2 linked regions of the Homo sapiens genome follow. The protein of the gene in region 1 interacts with the protein of each later gene in a pairwise test. Each region holds a gene or a part of one and is shown in the gene's direction. Other genes may lie near its edges.

Region 1 (7,070 bases):
ACGGATATGAGTGAATGCCCAATCTATGATAGAATTTCCTGGAGAATTTCTATGGGTTTCTCAGGAGACCCATCCCTCATATCCTTTATAGCCAAAACTTGCAATTTATAGATGTCGAAGCCCTTTAGCATAAGTGATCTCGACAGCTTATCACCACCAGGTCCCTGTGAAATGCAGAGAGCACCTAGTATTATTTGCACTATATGGAGAATAATAGCTAAGAGTTATTGAACACTCACTATGTGCTTGGCACTTATGCTAAATATCTTACAAATACCAAATTCATGTATAATACTATTAATTTCTCCACTCTACAGATGATGAAACGGAGTCTTAGGCTAAGTAGTTAATTTAAGGCCAAACATTTAGTAGAAGATATGGCTGCAATTTGAACTTGGCTGCCTGCCTTCAAATTCCTAACTTTGAACCTCTGCTCAGATGAACAAAATGGAAATCAGACATTTTAGCAACTCATTCGAGGATCTACATAGCATTAACAGATATTGGTCTTGTCTCATCCTTGTCTCATGGAGATCTTCAGTAGAGATCTTAGTTCTCTAGTAGAGAAAGAATTCACTAAACTATAGGAAGGAGATTAAACAGATAATACCTTTTCCAAGTGAAAAAACAAGTCTCAAAAGATAGTGTAAGTAAATTATAACTGTACACTAGAATATTTGGTGGCCAGGAAAAAATGTTTAAGGATTTTTTAAGGAAAGTAAAGCATTTTTCCATTCCAATAGAAAAAGTAGCCTATAAACTATTAATGCTTTCAAGTCTGTTTGAATACATGTATCTATACACATACATATATGCACACATATACATACACATAGCTAGTTATATGTATGTGTTTGTGGGTACATGTATGATCATATCACTTCTAATTTTTAATTTTTTTTTAATTTTTGTAGAGATGGGGGGGGTCTCACTATGTTGCCCTGGCTGGTCTTGAACTCCTGGCCTCAAGCAATCCTCCTGCCTTGTCCTCCGAAATTGTTGGGACTACAGATGTGAGCCACTGTGCTTGGCCTTGATTGTATCTTTTCATAATAGAAAAGTTTAGAATTAAATGCACTAAAATATTAACAGTATTACCTCTATGTTATGGAATTATGGGTAATTTTTACTTTTTCTCCTATATTTTTCTCTGTTTCCCCCCAAAAGATCAATCATATTATTTTTCCTCTCCATATAGGTTTATTAATATTTTATTTACTTAACATTTTTATTGAGATAATTTGCATACTGTAAAATTCACTCATTTTAACTATACCATTTGATGATTGTTATTAAATTTATAGAGTTGTGTATCCATCACCACAGTTCAATTTTAGATCATTTCTAGAAGATTTCTCAGGCCCATCTGCAGTCATCCCTTATTCCCACCTCCCAGCCTTAGGCAATCCCTAATCTATTTTCCATCTCTATAGATTCGCTTTTTCTGGAAGTTTCACATAAATAGGATCATACAACATATGCTCTTTTGGGACTGACATATATTGTGTTCTTTTAAAGAGAGGGAAATGAATAAATATTCTTTGGTTCTTTGCCTTTCCCATCCAATCCAAGCAAAAGCCTGTTTTCTTCCTCTTAATACTATAATAACTAATTATCAACAGAGTTTCCTTTACTCCTGTAGTTCTTGACCAGCAATCAAATCCCTTTCAGATCACAAGATAATCTATAGGACAGTAAAGCTATTCCTGATGTTTTAAGGATCTCTGTTTTTTAATTCCTCACACATTTCTCTATTTTTACATTAAAAAACTGATTTATAACTATTTTGTTCTTACCCTCTGGACAGTCATTGTAGACATGCCCTATACTCCCATTCTATTGGCAGAAACAGGGACACCATCACTGATGTGGAAGGGTTTGGAATCAGACAGACCCAAATTCCACTCCGGGGCCCCATCTCCTGTAGCTGGGTTATGGACCCTTCCTGAGTTCAGTGTCTTAGTGAGTATCTTGGAGTTACTTGTACCTACCTCCAGGGCTGGATGAAGACATGAGCATGCTCTGGACAAGCTAGTGATTGTTGGTTCTCCTTCGAAAGGATGTTCTTTAAATAAGTCTTCAACTTCTCTTTAGAGAAGAGGCAGGGCCCCCACACAGCAAAACAAAGGCCTTGCAGTTCATCAGAGCTACACTCCTTAAAATGCACTGTGGACTCCTCGAGGGTCTCACTCTCACTCCCAGCAGCTCATCAGTGTCTTCCTTCCAATCCAATTAACACTCTCCCTGAAAGTACTGATACATATCATTTTCAATATTTCACTACATTTTCAAGGATATTTATTGCTGTTTGTGGAGTAGTGTCTTTCTGGCTCTGCCTCATAGAGTGTTCTGAAGATTAAATGGGATCACACATGTAAGGAGTACTGCACAGGGTCTAACACTCAGTGGATGTTCAATAAATGGCGACTATTATTAGTATCATAACCAAAGCTATGGCAACTCTGAGCCTCTGTGTGATGACAGGTGATGTGCAGCTCCTTTCTCCTCTAGCTCCTTACCTGGAAACCTTCTTTGCAGAAAGGCATTTTCAGAAAGCTTTTGGTGACCTTGAAACATTCTCAGGTGCTCTCTGATGTCTTTATAAATGAAACTTAATATATATAGGAGATACAGTTCCTCCTTCATACCTGTATAGTAAAAAAGCCACAACATAAATACCTTTGGTTAATCTTTCTATAGTATATTATTTTAAATATTAGCATAAACATGATAGAAATTAACAGAATGAAGGTTAACTGGGGGAAAAGCCCTGAGCAGGGAGGGAGGAGTTGCTGTGGGAACACTGTGGCAGGTCTGAAACTAGATCCTGGCTATCCAGCAGAGGGAAATGGCACATATTTGGAGGCTTTTATATCATGGTAATAATTGTTTTATTAGGATCAAAGCATCCCAGAAAGCACTTGCTCTTTCCTTCTCTCCAGTCCCCCTGACTCTCCCCTGAGCAGGGTTGGATAGGAGGTTTGGTGGGGGGAGGAGGCAGGGAACAGTAGAAGAAAGCAATGCTATGTCCCTTTCCCCCATTGTCTGGCCCCAAATGTAGTGCCATAAATATCAAAACAGTGCTTGGTAATAGTCCAAAACATTTAACTTGTCCGCAAATTCCTAAACAACCATTGGCGTGTAATTTGGTTCTTGGCAGAGTGTAACTGAATAACTTGTAGACATGACATTTGTGTGAACATCTACAAGAGACAGGCCGTTATCACCACCCATTCAACACTCCAGCCAGAGGAAGAACAGCAAGGGGGCCAGCCATACAAGTTCACCTGCGCGTCCGGGGTCTCGGTTCTGCTGTGGCCCGGCTACTCCCCATTCTCAACTGTGTTTTCTTCACCATGCAGGTGATGGAAGCCCAGGCAGGCCCAGGGTTCAAGGCCAGTGACTTCAGCCTGTCACCCCCTCAGACCACATCGGGCCCACCGGCCTCCTCCCTCCCTGCCCCTCAGCCCTGCCCGCACTGCCCCCCATTGCGCCCAGCCCTTCCTCACCCCGCAGGAGAAGCTGGCCTCTCATTCCTCACTGAGAGACTCGACGGGCGTCCCCACGCCAAGCCTTCCTCGCCCTCCCCTCCAGCCTTTTCTGAAGGGGAGACAGCAAAGGTGAGCAAGCAACCGCCGGCAAGTTTCGACAGCTGCTGAGGAAGACTCATGGGTTTCTAAGGAAACAGAGAGGCAGCAGCCATTTTAGTAGCATTTGCTGTATGAAAAATATATAGACACTGGCAGCCCTCTCCCCACTCTGCCTTGGCGCCTGCCCTCCCGCCCCGCCTCAGAGGCCCCGGGGTGAGGGTGGGGCCCCAGTCTCCGAGGGACGCAGCGGACACCTGTCGCAGGTGGCCGGCCACCGGGGTCGCCACCCCCAGTGTCCCCCAGCAGCGGGACCGCGGGGTCCCCACCCCGGGGCGGAATCCCCACCCACGGGCGCCGCAGTGCAGCGGCGGGCGGGCGGGCGACTCGGCCCTCCCCGCACCCGCGTCCCGCCCCCCGGGTCCCCTCCCTCTCCCCACCGCCCCAGGCCGCGGGAGCCCGCGGGGAGGGCGGGCCTGTCGCAGCCGCGCTGGTCGCCAGGCGTCCGGGAGGAGCGGGGTCCGCGCGGCGGACGAGGCGGGGGCGGAGGCGCAGGCAGAGCGAGCGCGGGAGGTCGCCGCAGCCAGGGACACCGCGCGCCGCCGCTCAACATGGTCGCTGCGCACGCTGCCCATTCTTCCTCCTCTGCCGAGTGGATCGCCTGCCTGGATAAAAGGTAGCTCGCCGGGGGCCGCAGCCGGGGGCCGAGCTCTGCGGTGCTGCCCGGGCCCTGAGACCGCCGCAGCTCCGCACCTGGGCGCAGCGCGGCCGGGCTGCGGGTGGCCGGGGTCCCCGAGCGGGGGAAGGGGTTGAGGTCCTCGTCCGGGAGACAGGAGGACAAGGATCCCCGCCTCTCGTGGGGTGCCAGCGGCATGAGATTATTACACGTGGTGGAGAAAATGCAGCGCAGTAAGGGGAGAGAGCACCCACCTCTCCAACCCCCTGCCCTGCCGCGACTCCAGGCTCCGCTCCTGGGTGGGGGTTTATTTTCTCTTGGCATCACGGGACAGAAGAATCGATGCATACCCTTTCCGGCTATTCAGACCTTGCGGGGTATGAAGTTTTAAAGAGGGGTGGGGGCACCGGCAGGTGCAGAGTAACATTCTTTTTTTGTTCTTGAAAGCAAAGTGTGAGGGACCCGGTGGAGCTGTCGAATCCCTTGCTGAAATTCACAGCTCTCTGCCCCCGCAGTCGCTCGCTCAAGGTCTGTGTTAGAGAAGGTCATTTGGGAGGCTGCTTTCGTCTTAATACCTGCTTCTCGGGAAAAGATCTTTACGCTAAAAATAATTAAAACCATAAAGCATGTAACTCCCGACGACAGCTCTCTCTAAGGAGGATGTGTGTGTTAACAGTGGATTGCAGTTGTTTCCAGGCTGTGACAGCATAATTTTCTGTTTGTCCAGATTGCAGGTTTAAACGTTACACAGTATGTTAGCAATTATAGCTTATTACCCTGATTAAAAGGTGATGCATCTGAACTTTTAAGAACTGAGCAAGAAATCTTGCAGAGTGAACTGCCTCTGAATTTCGGAGTTTGATGCAGAAGGGCAATGATGCACGTCTTGCAGCTATCTGCATGACATCTCTATTTGCATTTGTGTGAAATATTTTGTGCTCTGCCATATTGAAAAATTTTCAATTAACAGATTCGTAACCAGATCAAACTTGAAAATCTTAAGTGTGACGTGCTTTGCATACTCTATTATAGGCCTTTGTTGAAAAATATTAAGTAATTTGAGAAAAGCTAAATGTAGCTCATTTGAAAAGCTTAATATATCTGAGAAATAATCTTGACTTTCAATTACCACTCAGTAGCAAGATTTTTTGGCAGGTAGTGCCCTATTTATGTCTAAAATGATATGTACTAATATTAAAAGAGTTGCATGCAATAAATAGTAAGAGAATTAAAGTAATAGTTAAATCACACAGGATTATGTAGAAGAACTAAGAGTATTTAAAGTATAGAGGTTGTTAATGTGATAAGTATCTACATTTAATAGTTCAGGAAAAAGGAATTATATGGGATTCAGGATCTTGCACTTAACCTATAAATAGTAGTGCTTCCTTATGAGCAAAATTTTTAGATAATAACATATTTCTATGTGTAGAAATGCATGGCATGGCATTTTTTGAACAGTCGGTAATTCACTGGAAACCCGTTAGTCAATAAGAAGTACTTATGGCAAAATCATAGAGCAATACTAACACAAGTGGGACATATTCGACTCTCTCTTTTCATAATGTGTATCTGCCTAAATGATTTTGCTTGAAATGGATTTTTTAGAGCATGGTGCCCCCATTTAATGCCACCATTCATAATGGGAAAAAAATCTAGGAAAAAAAAAAAAACCCTTCACAGATACTGAGCCTAGCATCAGAAGAGTCAGATGAGTGGATAGATCAATAAGTTAAGGGTTTTAGGCACAGAGCTGTTACCAGTTCTGATATTGGACATGTCACTTTTACTTCCTTGAGTGTCTGAAAAATGAGGATAGGACTATCAGGGATAAGTGGACAAATGGAAGGAGAAAAAAAAGGTGAAATAGTTTGAAAACTGTGAGTGCCATGTAGGCTTTTTGTTTTGTGGTATTAAAAGAACTTTGCATGTTCTGCAGTGTTCATGCCAGAATTAATTCCAATGAGGAACAGTTTAGGGCAGCAATCTCATTGTATGAAGGCCATGGGGGGACTTGTTTTGAAGTTGTGTTTTTACTTAGATTGTTTATTTATTTATTTTTTTTAGGAAAGGAGAAAGGTTGAGAGTGTTTATGGAAGTTGGCTAGGGAAGCCCCCTGAAACACCTGTTTAGTGGAGACACTGCCCTCAATGTTTCTGAGAAATGCTGTCTTGATCCTCTTTTCCAGGCACTGTGAAATGCTATCTTGATCCTCTTTTAAATGCTATCTTGATCTTCTTTTCCAGGCACTGTGCTGGGCACTGGGGATGCAACAAAATATGAGAGTTGCTTGTAGGCTTAGAGGGTAGGGGAGATTGGTGGTGGGACGGCTCTATAAACAGCTAACCACAATGCAATAGTAAGTGCTTTAATGGAGATGTATAAAGTGCTTTGGGAATGCAGATGAGAGAGTTATCGAGATACTTCCATAGGTGTCCTGCCTAGAACTCAGAGGCTGAGAACAATTTTACCAGGCACAGAATAGGGAGGGCATGCCAGGGAGTGGTGTGGCATATGAATATGCTAATTTCTTCCCAACCACAAATTCCTCTTGTGACCAAATCTAGAGTATAGGAATGTATGCTCTATTTTTATAAAATCTTTTTTATTATGGACATTTTCAACCCTGCACAAAAGAGAAAGTACAATGAACCCATGTGGGTTCACTTGGGAATATGATGCTGGGACCTTTCAACTGGGAAAAGGACGTAACTGGGAAACACAGTTCAAATATATGCCTCATTCAAGTGACAACTGTTGTGGATGGTGAAAAAAAGAGAAACCCTGGGACTGGAAATAAAAAGAGA
Region 2 (7,946 bases), on another chromosome or scaffold:
CTACATCTCCGCTAAAAATACAAAAATTAGTTGGGCAAGGTGGTGCATACCCGTAGTCCCAGCTACTAAGGAGGCCTGGGCGGGAGGACTGCTTGAGCCCGGGAGGTGAGCAGTGAGCCGACATCCCACCACAGCACGCTAGCCTGGGTGACAGAGCGAGACTCTGTCTCAAAAAAAAAAAAAAAAAGGAATCACAGTATTTTTAAATTTCTACCATTATCATTCTATAAAATATGATTGAGATTACAGTGTGCACTTGATCTTAGCCAAAAGATCCAGAATGACAGCTCACACTTTATATTACAATTTGTATTCTACTTTTCCTGATATTTTGATTAAATTGTGCTATGTTTTCCCTATGACATTTCCCTATTACATTTCTTTGTAAACATCATTTTAAATAAGTGTACAGTGTTACATTGCAGGCATACCATAAGTTTAGCCATTTCCCTTTTGTAAGATACTGACCCTTTTCTAATTTTTTCTACAGTTTACATAAATTGTAAAAAAAATATATTGTGTGAATGTATTTTTAGTAATTCAGATATTCCTTCGGGTAGATTTCCATGAGTTGAATTTTTAGATCCAATAGATGTATTTTTTCTTTTTTAAATTATAAAATATTTTAATGTAGAGATAATTACATGACAAAGATCCCTAAATGCACCAACCGTCTTTTAAGGGATACACACCCTTTTATTTATATATTATGTCTGTAAGATTCATCCATTTTGTTGGTAGTAATTTGTTTGTTTTTTTTTTTTTTTTTTTGTGAGACAGGGTTTCACTCTGTGGCCCAGGCTGGAGTGCAGTGGCATGATCACGGCTCACTGCAGCCTGAACCTCCCACGCTCAAGTGATCCTCCTGCCTCAGCCTCCTGAGTAGCTAAGACTACAGGCACACACCACCCATGCCTGGCTAATTTTTGTATTTTTTGTAGAGAAGGGATTTTGCCATGTTGCCCAGGCTGGTCTCGAACTCCTGGGCTCAAGCGATTTGCCCACCTCAGCCTCCTCAAGTGCTAGGATTACAGGTGTGAGCCATTGTGCCTGGCCAGTAGTTTGGTCTTTTTCGTTGCTGTGCAGATTCAGTTGTATGAATATAGCATAATTTTTGTCCATTCTATTGTTGATAGACATTTGAGTTGTTTTCATTTCTTGTCATTATGAGTAAAGCTCTTAACATTGGTGGACACAAGTATGTATTTCTCTTAGGGATATATCCAGGAATAGAATTGCTGCCAGACAGAAAAATATATATGTATTTGTAGCTTTAGAGGGTATTGCCAGTCTTTTTTTATTTCTTTCTTTTTTATTTTGAGACAGTCTCACTCTGTCGCCCACGCTGGAATGCAGTGGCGCAATCTCAGTTCACTGCAATCTCTGCCTCCCGGGTTCAAGCGATTCTCCTGCCTCAGTCTCCTGAGTAGCTGGGATTACGGGCATGTGCCATCACGCCTGGCTAATTTTTGAATTTTTTTAGCACAGACGAGGTTTTGCCATGTTGGGCTGGTCTTGAACCCCTGACCTCAGGTGATCCGCCCACCTCAGCCTCCTAAAGTGCTAGGATTACAGGCGTGAGTCACCACGCCCAGCCATTATCTCTCATTTTCTAAAGTGGTAGTACCATTTTATACTCCGAACAGCAATAAATTGTAGTTACATTCTTACTAACTGCTAACTCATTTATTTACTAGCATCTGGACTAACATTTGGTATTGTCAGTCTTTTTAATTTTAGTCATTCTGGTAAGGGTGTAGTGCCCACCAGCCATCTCCAACAGATTTTAACATATATGCTTCAGATCTCTTTTAAGAAATATAAATTTAAATATTCATTAGTGAATCTAGTAAGGGATGTGTGTGCGTGTGTATATATATATATATTGTATATATACACACACATATACAAGAAAATAACATACATATTATATAAAATAACGTATATATACACATACTGTATATATACACACACAAACTATATATATATATGTGTGTGTGTGTGTATTTTGGAGACAGGGTCTCACTCTGTCATCTAGGTTGGAGTAGAGTGGTGTGGTCTTGCCTCACTGTAGCCTCGACCTCCCAGGCCCAAGCAGTCCTCCTACCTCAGCCTCCTGAGTATCTGGAATTATAGGTGTGTGCCACCACACCTGGTTAATGTTTTAATTTTTGTAGAGATGGAAAACTGCTTTGCTGCCCAGGCTGGTCTCGAACTCCTGAGCTCAAGGATTCCTCCCACCTTAGCCTCCCAAAGTGCTGGGATTATAGGCATGAGCCACCGCACCTGGCCAAGGTCTGTATTTTTCTTATTGTACTAAACTTGCAACTTTTCTGTAGATTTAAAAATTTTCAAAATACTGTAAATAGTTTAAAAATATATAAATTTTAGATATAGCTGAAACTAACTACTTACCCTTTCCCAGCCTCCTAAAGTAATTACTATCCTGAATGTAATGTTTATTGTTTTTTTTTTTTTTTTTTGAGACAGCGTCTCACTGTCACTGAGGCTGGAGTGCAGTGTCATGATCTCAGTTCACTGCAACCTCCGTCCCACGGGTTCAAGTGATTCTCCTGCCTCAACCTCCTGAGTAGCTGGAATTACAGGTGTGCGCCACCAGGCCCGGCTAATTTTTTTTTTTTTTTTTTTTTTTGTATTTTTAGTAGAGACGGGGTTTCAGCATGTTGGCCAGGCTGGTCTCGAACTCCTGACCTCAGACTAACCGCCCGCCTCAGCCTCCCAAAGTGCTGGGATTACAGGCGTGAGCCACTGTGCCTGGCCTGGTACAACTAATTTTAAAAGCAGGTTGACACTCTAGTCCAACTGGCAGATGTGCATACCCCATGCCATTGTAATTTTTCCCCCTAGAAAAACTCCTATTCAGTCGTACAGGGAAATGAGTATAAAAACATTTGCTGCTGCCATGTTTGTAATTGTGGACAATTGGGAATAATCTTTATACCTCATCAATGAAAAAATAGACCAATTATGGTTCATTCATGTAGAATACTATACAGTAGACTATGAACCAGAGTTACATGAATCAGAATTCGTATTTCTCAAAAGCATAATGTGGGCCGGGCACGGTGGCTCACGCCTGTAATCCTAGCACTTTGGCAGGCTGAGGCAGGTGGATCACTTGAGCCCAGGAATTCAAGACCAGCCTGAGCAACACAGTGAAAACCTGTCTCTATCTTTTTAAAAGGAAGAAAAGCATATTGTGGAACAACAACAGAAAAAAGCAACTTGCAGAATTATAAAGTATGATATCATTTGTATAAATTATAAGAAAATGTTAAATAGCGCTATTATATATAATTTGTAGAGTTATACATATATACCTGAGAACAATAAACATTACATTCATGCAGCCAGGCACAGTGGCTCATTCCTGTAGTCTCAGCACTTTGGGAGACCAAGGCGGGCAGATCACTTGAGCTCAGGAGTTCGAGACCAGCCTGGCCAACATGGTGAAACCACATCTCCATTAAAAATACAAAAAATTAGCTGGGCATGGTGGCACGCCTGTAGTCGCAGCTACTCAGGAGCTTGAACCCAGGAGGTGGAGGTTTCAGTGAGCCGAGACTATGCCACTGCACTCCAGCCTGGGTGACAGAGAGAAAAAAACAGTTGTACCAATTTATACTCCCACTAGCATTAGATAAAAGTTCAAATTATGCCAGGCATGGTGTCTCACATCTGTAACCCCAGCATTTTTGGACTCTGTCTCAAAAAAAAAATCCACATCTTTTACAACACATGATTGTTAGATTTTTTAGTTTTTGCCTATCGGATGATATATTCTTATTTACATTTTCATTTTCCTTATTACTAAGGGGGTTGAGCAGCTTCTCACATTAGGCCTTCCTCCTCTGCCCACATGACATGACTATTCATATTCTTTCCCTGTTTCCTACTGGGATATCATTTTCTTTTTTTCGTTTCTTTTCTTTTTTTGAGACGGAGTTTTCCTCTTGTTGCCCAGGCTGGAGTGCAATGGCATGATCTCGGATGACTGAAACCTCTGCCTCCCAGGTTCAAGCGATTCTCCTGCCTCAGCCTCCCGAGTAGCTGGAATTACAGGCCTGCGCCATCACAGCTGGCTAATTTTTGTATTTTCAGTAAAGATGGGGTTTCACCATGTTGGCCAGGCTAGTCTCAAACTCCTGGCCTCAAGTGATCCACCCACCTCGGCCTCCCAAAGTGCTGGGATTACAGGCATGAGCCATCGTGCCCAGGCACTGCCATGGTGTTTTTTGTTTGTTTGTTTGTTTGTTTTTAAAGATAAACCTCTGGGGTTTCTGGAAAGTAAAGCCCCATGCTCCAAACAGCTCTGCTATACCTGTGTGCAAAATATTTTCATCTCTCTCTCTCTCTCCCCAAAGTGCATGCAAACACATATGGAACTGACATAGGCATCCACTGTCGCACTTCAAATTAAACAGACGCACACGACAGATATTCTCACAGAAAAGCAGTCAGCCAAGCCCAGAACCCATAGATCTAGGTCCACACTCACGCCTCTGCATGCTCCCCAGAAAGACGGATGCATCGCCCGCAGGTAGAGACGGGCTCACCAATCCCACTCAAAACCCGCTGCCGGCTTACAGCTCGCAAGCCGCCCACAGTGCCAGCCCCATGCCAAGCATCACTAGGGGCTCTAGAATAGGCAGGGGCCTTGTTCTCACTTCCTTTGTGTTGCTTTTATTTTAGTTGTTTTGTTTGTTGTTTTTCTTAGAGTTATCACCTGCCCCTCTGTCTCCCTACCCAGCCCCCAAGCCTCCCCTCCAAGCCTCCACTGCGCATGTGCCGTGCATCCCTGCCCCTTCTGGGTACCCGTAGGCGCTCCCGGGCGCTGGCGGCGGCGGAGGAGAGGGAGCAGCGTCACGGGCGCCCGGCCCGTTAAAACGCTGCTGGCTGGAGCCACCTCCCTCCCTGCAGCCCGCAACGGGAATGGAGTAAAGGGAGACCCGTCGACCTGGCCACGGGGATCAGCGATGGAATTAAAGCAATCTTTGTCCACCCATCTGGAAGCCGAGAAGCCTCTGAGGCGCTATGGGGCGGTGGAGGAGACGGCTTGGAAAACGGAGAGACTGGGGAGAAGTGAGTACTGGGGCGGGGGGCGGGGGGCCGGGGACAGCTGGGGATCCATGCGCCTGCGCGGGTGGTCGCGGGAGCGCGAGGAACGCCAGCAGTGGACCCAGGGAAGCGCCCCCGCAGCGGGGCTGGCAGCTCAGGGGGATACGCAGCTCTGCGCAGCGACGCGCTCTCCCCGCGAACAAAAGGGGGGGACCCTCCGGGCTGAGCCTCACTGGGAGGGTTGGGAGATGGCCAGGCAGCTAAGGCAGGAGCCTGGGCTCGACTTAGGAGTCCCGGATCCGTCAGCTCGCAGCTGGTCCTGTGAAGTCGGGTCTCTCCCACAGCCCAGGGAGGAGGATCCTCTCTCCGCCTGGGATGCGCCAGGGCGCTGGAGACGCGGGACCGTCCTGGAAAGCGCCCACGTCCCTGGAGAGGGGGGAGTGTCTGCTGGTTTTCCGCTTGCTTTCCTACCCCCTGCGTGAGGTTTCGGAGCGCACCTGAAATTCCCAGCTTTTCCTCCCTCGCCTTCCTTGGGTCGGGGTGGGAGGCTTGGGGCGGCAAAAGGGTCAAAAGGCACACACCGTTCTCTTTTCTCTCTTGACTCAGTTAAAGTCTGCTTGGGCACAACTCTAGAAGGCAGTTTCGAAATAGACCGGCTGTATTTATTTACTGGTTCTCTCTGCGGTGTTTGGATGTCAACATTTCTAAGTAAACGAAGGATTTTGTTTTTCATTAATAGGATACAATAGTTGAAACTCCTGCCCTCAAAGTGTAGAGGCAGCGTCAGGGGCTCCAGGGTCACTGGAGGTCCCTGCAAACCCGGGGGCTCCCCAAAGCCGCTGCTCTCACATGGCTTGCCCACCAGGCTGGGAAGGAGAGGTCCTTCTCAGGGACCCGGCAGCTTCCTGCCTCGGCTCTGGGTCACTGCTCCGCGCTCTGCCCCAGCACGGATCTCTGAGCGATGTAGGGCTAAAGTATTGTGAATGTGATCTTATTCTGTCCTCACCTGGTGGAAAATTGTGTGTGCGCGCTTTCTTTCTCTATACCTGTAATTATGGATTTAGAAAATCTTCCTAGAAGGGCTCAACTGTGTTCTGATTCTGACGGGTTGAAGTTGAAATCACAATCCAATGTCTTAGTGGTTCATGGGCTAGGATGGATGTCATAGCACTGCCAACCTCTTTCCTTTTCTTTTTTTTTCTCCCTTTTTAACCTTGGTCTTTCTTTCTAGTTCATCCTTTCAAGACCCAATGACTTGGTGCTTTGGCATAATATCAGGGCGTCAGGGCTGAGGGTCTCTGTTTCTTTCTTTAATTTTTAAGTGCACATAGTGGGTGTCCATATTTATGGAATACATGAGATATTTTGATACAGGCATACAATGTGTAATAATCACATCAGGGTAAACGGGGTATCCAAAACCTCAAGCATTTATCCTTTTTTTTGTGTTACAAACAATCCAATTACACTCCTTTTTTAAAAAAGCCCAGCTGTGTGACTAATTATACTCTTTTAGTTTAGCTTTTTTTTTTTTTTTTTTGAGACGGAGTTTCGCTCTTGTTGCCCAGACTGGAGTGCAATGACACAATCTCGGCTCACTGCGACCTCCACTTCCTGGGTTCAAGCGATTCTCCTGCCTCAGCCTCCAGAGTAGCTGAGATTACAGGTGCTCGCCACCATGCCTGGCTAACTTTTGTATTTTTAGTAGAGATGGGGTTTCACCATGTTGGGCAGGCTGGTCCCGAACTCCTGACCTCAGGTGATCGGCCTGCCCTGGCCTCCCAAAGTGCCGGGATTACAGGTGTGAGGCACCCCACCTGCCCTCTTTTAGTTATTTTTAAATGTACAATAAATTGTTGACTGTAGTCATCGTGTTGTGCTATCAGATACTAGATCTTATTCATTCTATCTACCTATATTTTTGTACCCATTAACCATCTCTGTGTCCCCCCATCCCAATACCCTCCCCAGCCTCTGGTAACCATCATTCTACTCTGTATCTCCATGAGGGTCTCTTGTTTCTTACAAGCTCAAAATAATCTCAACAATGGCTGCCTTTTATTGCTAGATGACCATGTGCTGAGAACTCTAAATGCATCATTTCATTTAGTCCCCTCAACAACCTCCTGCAGTACTAAGATTTATAAATTTAAATCTTGCCTAGATTTAAAAAAACATTTTAAAATAAAAATTTTAAAACAAAACATTTTAAAATAAAAAATTTAAATATAAATTTAAAATCTTGCATAGATTTAAAAAAACAAAACAAAACTGGGACTTGTTAGGTGATCTGACAGTTAAGTGGCAGAACCAGGATTTGAACCCCGGTCTGTTGGACCCCAGAGCCTGCTTTTAACATGAAGGTTTATTGCTTTCATGGTTTCAGAAAACTTCCTAAGTCTATTGAGATAGTCACAGAACATGCTCAGTGATTTTATAATTATGTGGCAGCCCTGTTGCTCTCTGAAGCTCACAGAGGCCTTAAAAAAATGCTGGGTCCACGCAGAATGGAAGCTGTTCACAAGAGTGCTGCTTTGAATCCTCACTCTGTGCCTTGCTGGCTATGTGACTTTAGGAGTATTGCTAAGCCTCACTCTGCCTTCATTTTCTGAAAATAGAGATTATGTCTTTATTGTGTATACTAAATAAGATGATACATATAGTACTCAAGGTTAAGTGCTCAATACGTATTGTTCACTTCCATTCGGTTACTGCACAACATTTATAGACAGAACCTGCTTTTACTCTTTGCAAGGAATTATGTAAATATTGGTCAATTCTTCAATAATGCCCTTGTAGCTTTTTATATCTTAACATTTTATGAGAAAAAATTTGAAACATGCAGGAAAATTGCAGCAAGCACCCAA

What was found. The genes of interacting proteins can lie anywhere in the genome.
Region 2: the proteins of RAPGEF4 (region 1) and BMERB1 interact in binary tests that used the Homo sapiens proteins (3 or more experiments, as listed by UniProt).

The regions. Positions count from the first base shown.
Region 1 is NC_000002.12:172,731,786-172,738,855, forward strand, and holds the start of RAPGEF4 (rap guanine nucleotide exchange factor 4), read left to right. Parts: upstream 1-4,059; 5' UTR 4,060-4,198; coding exon 4,199-4,263; exon of another isoform or gene 4,264-4,605; coding exon of another isoform or gene 4,606-4,640; intron 4,641-7,070.
Region 2 is NC_000016.10:15,429,657-15,437,602, forward strand, and holds the start of BMERB1 (bMERB domain-containing protein 1), read left to right. Parts: upstream 1-4,931; 5' UTR 4,932-4,997; coding exon 4,998-5,103; intron 5,104-7,946.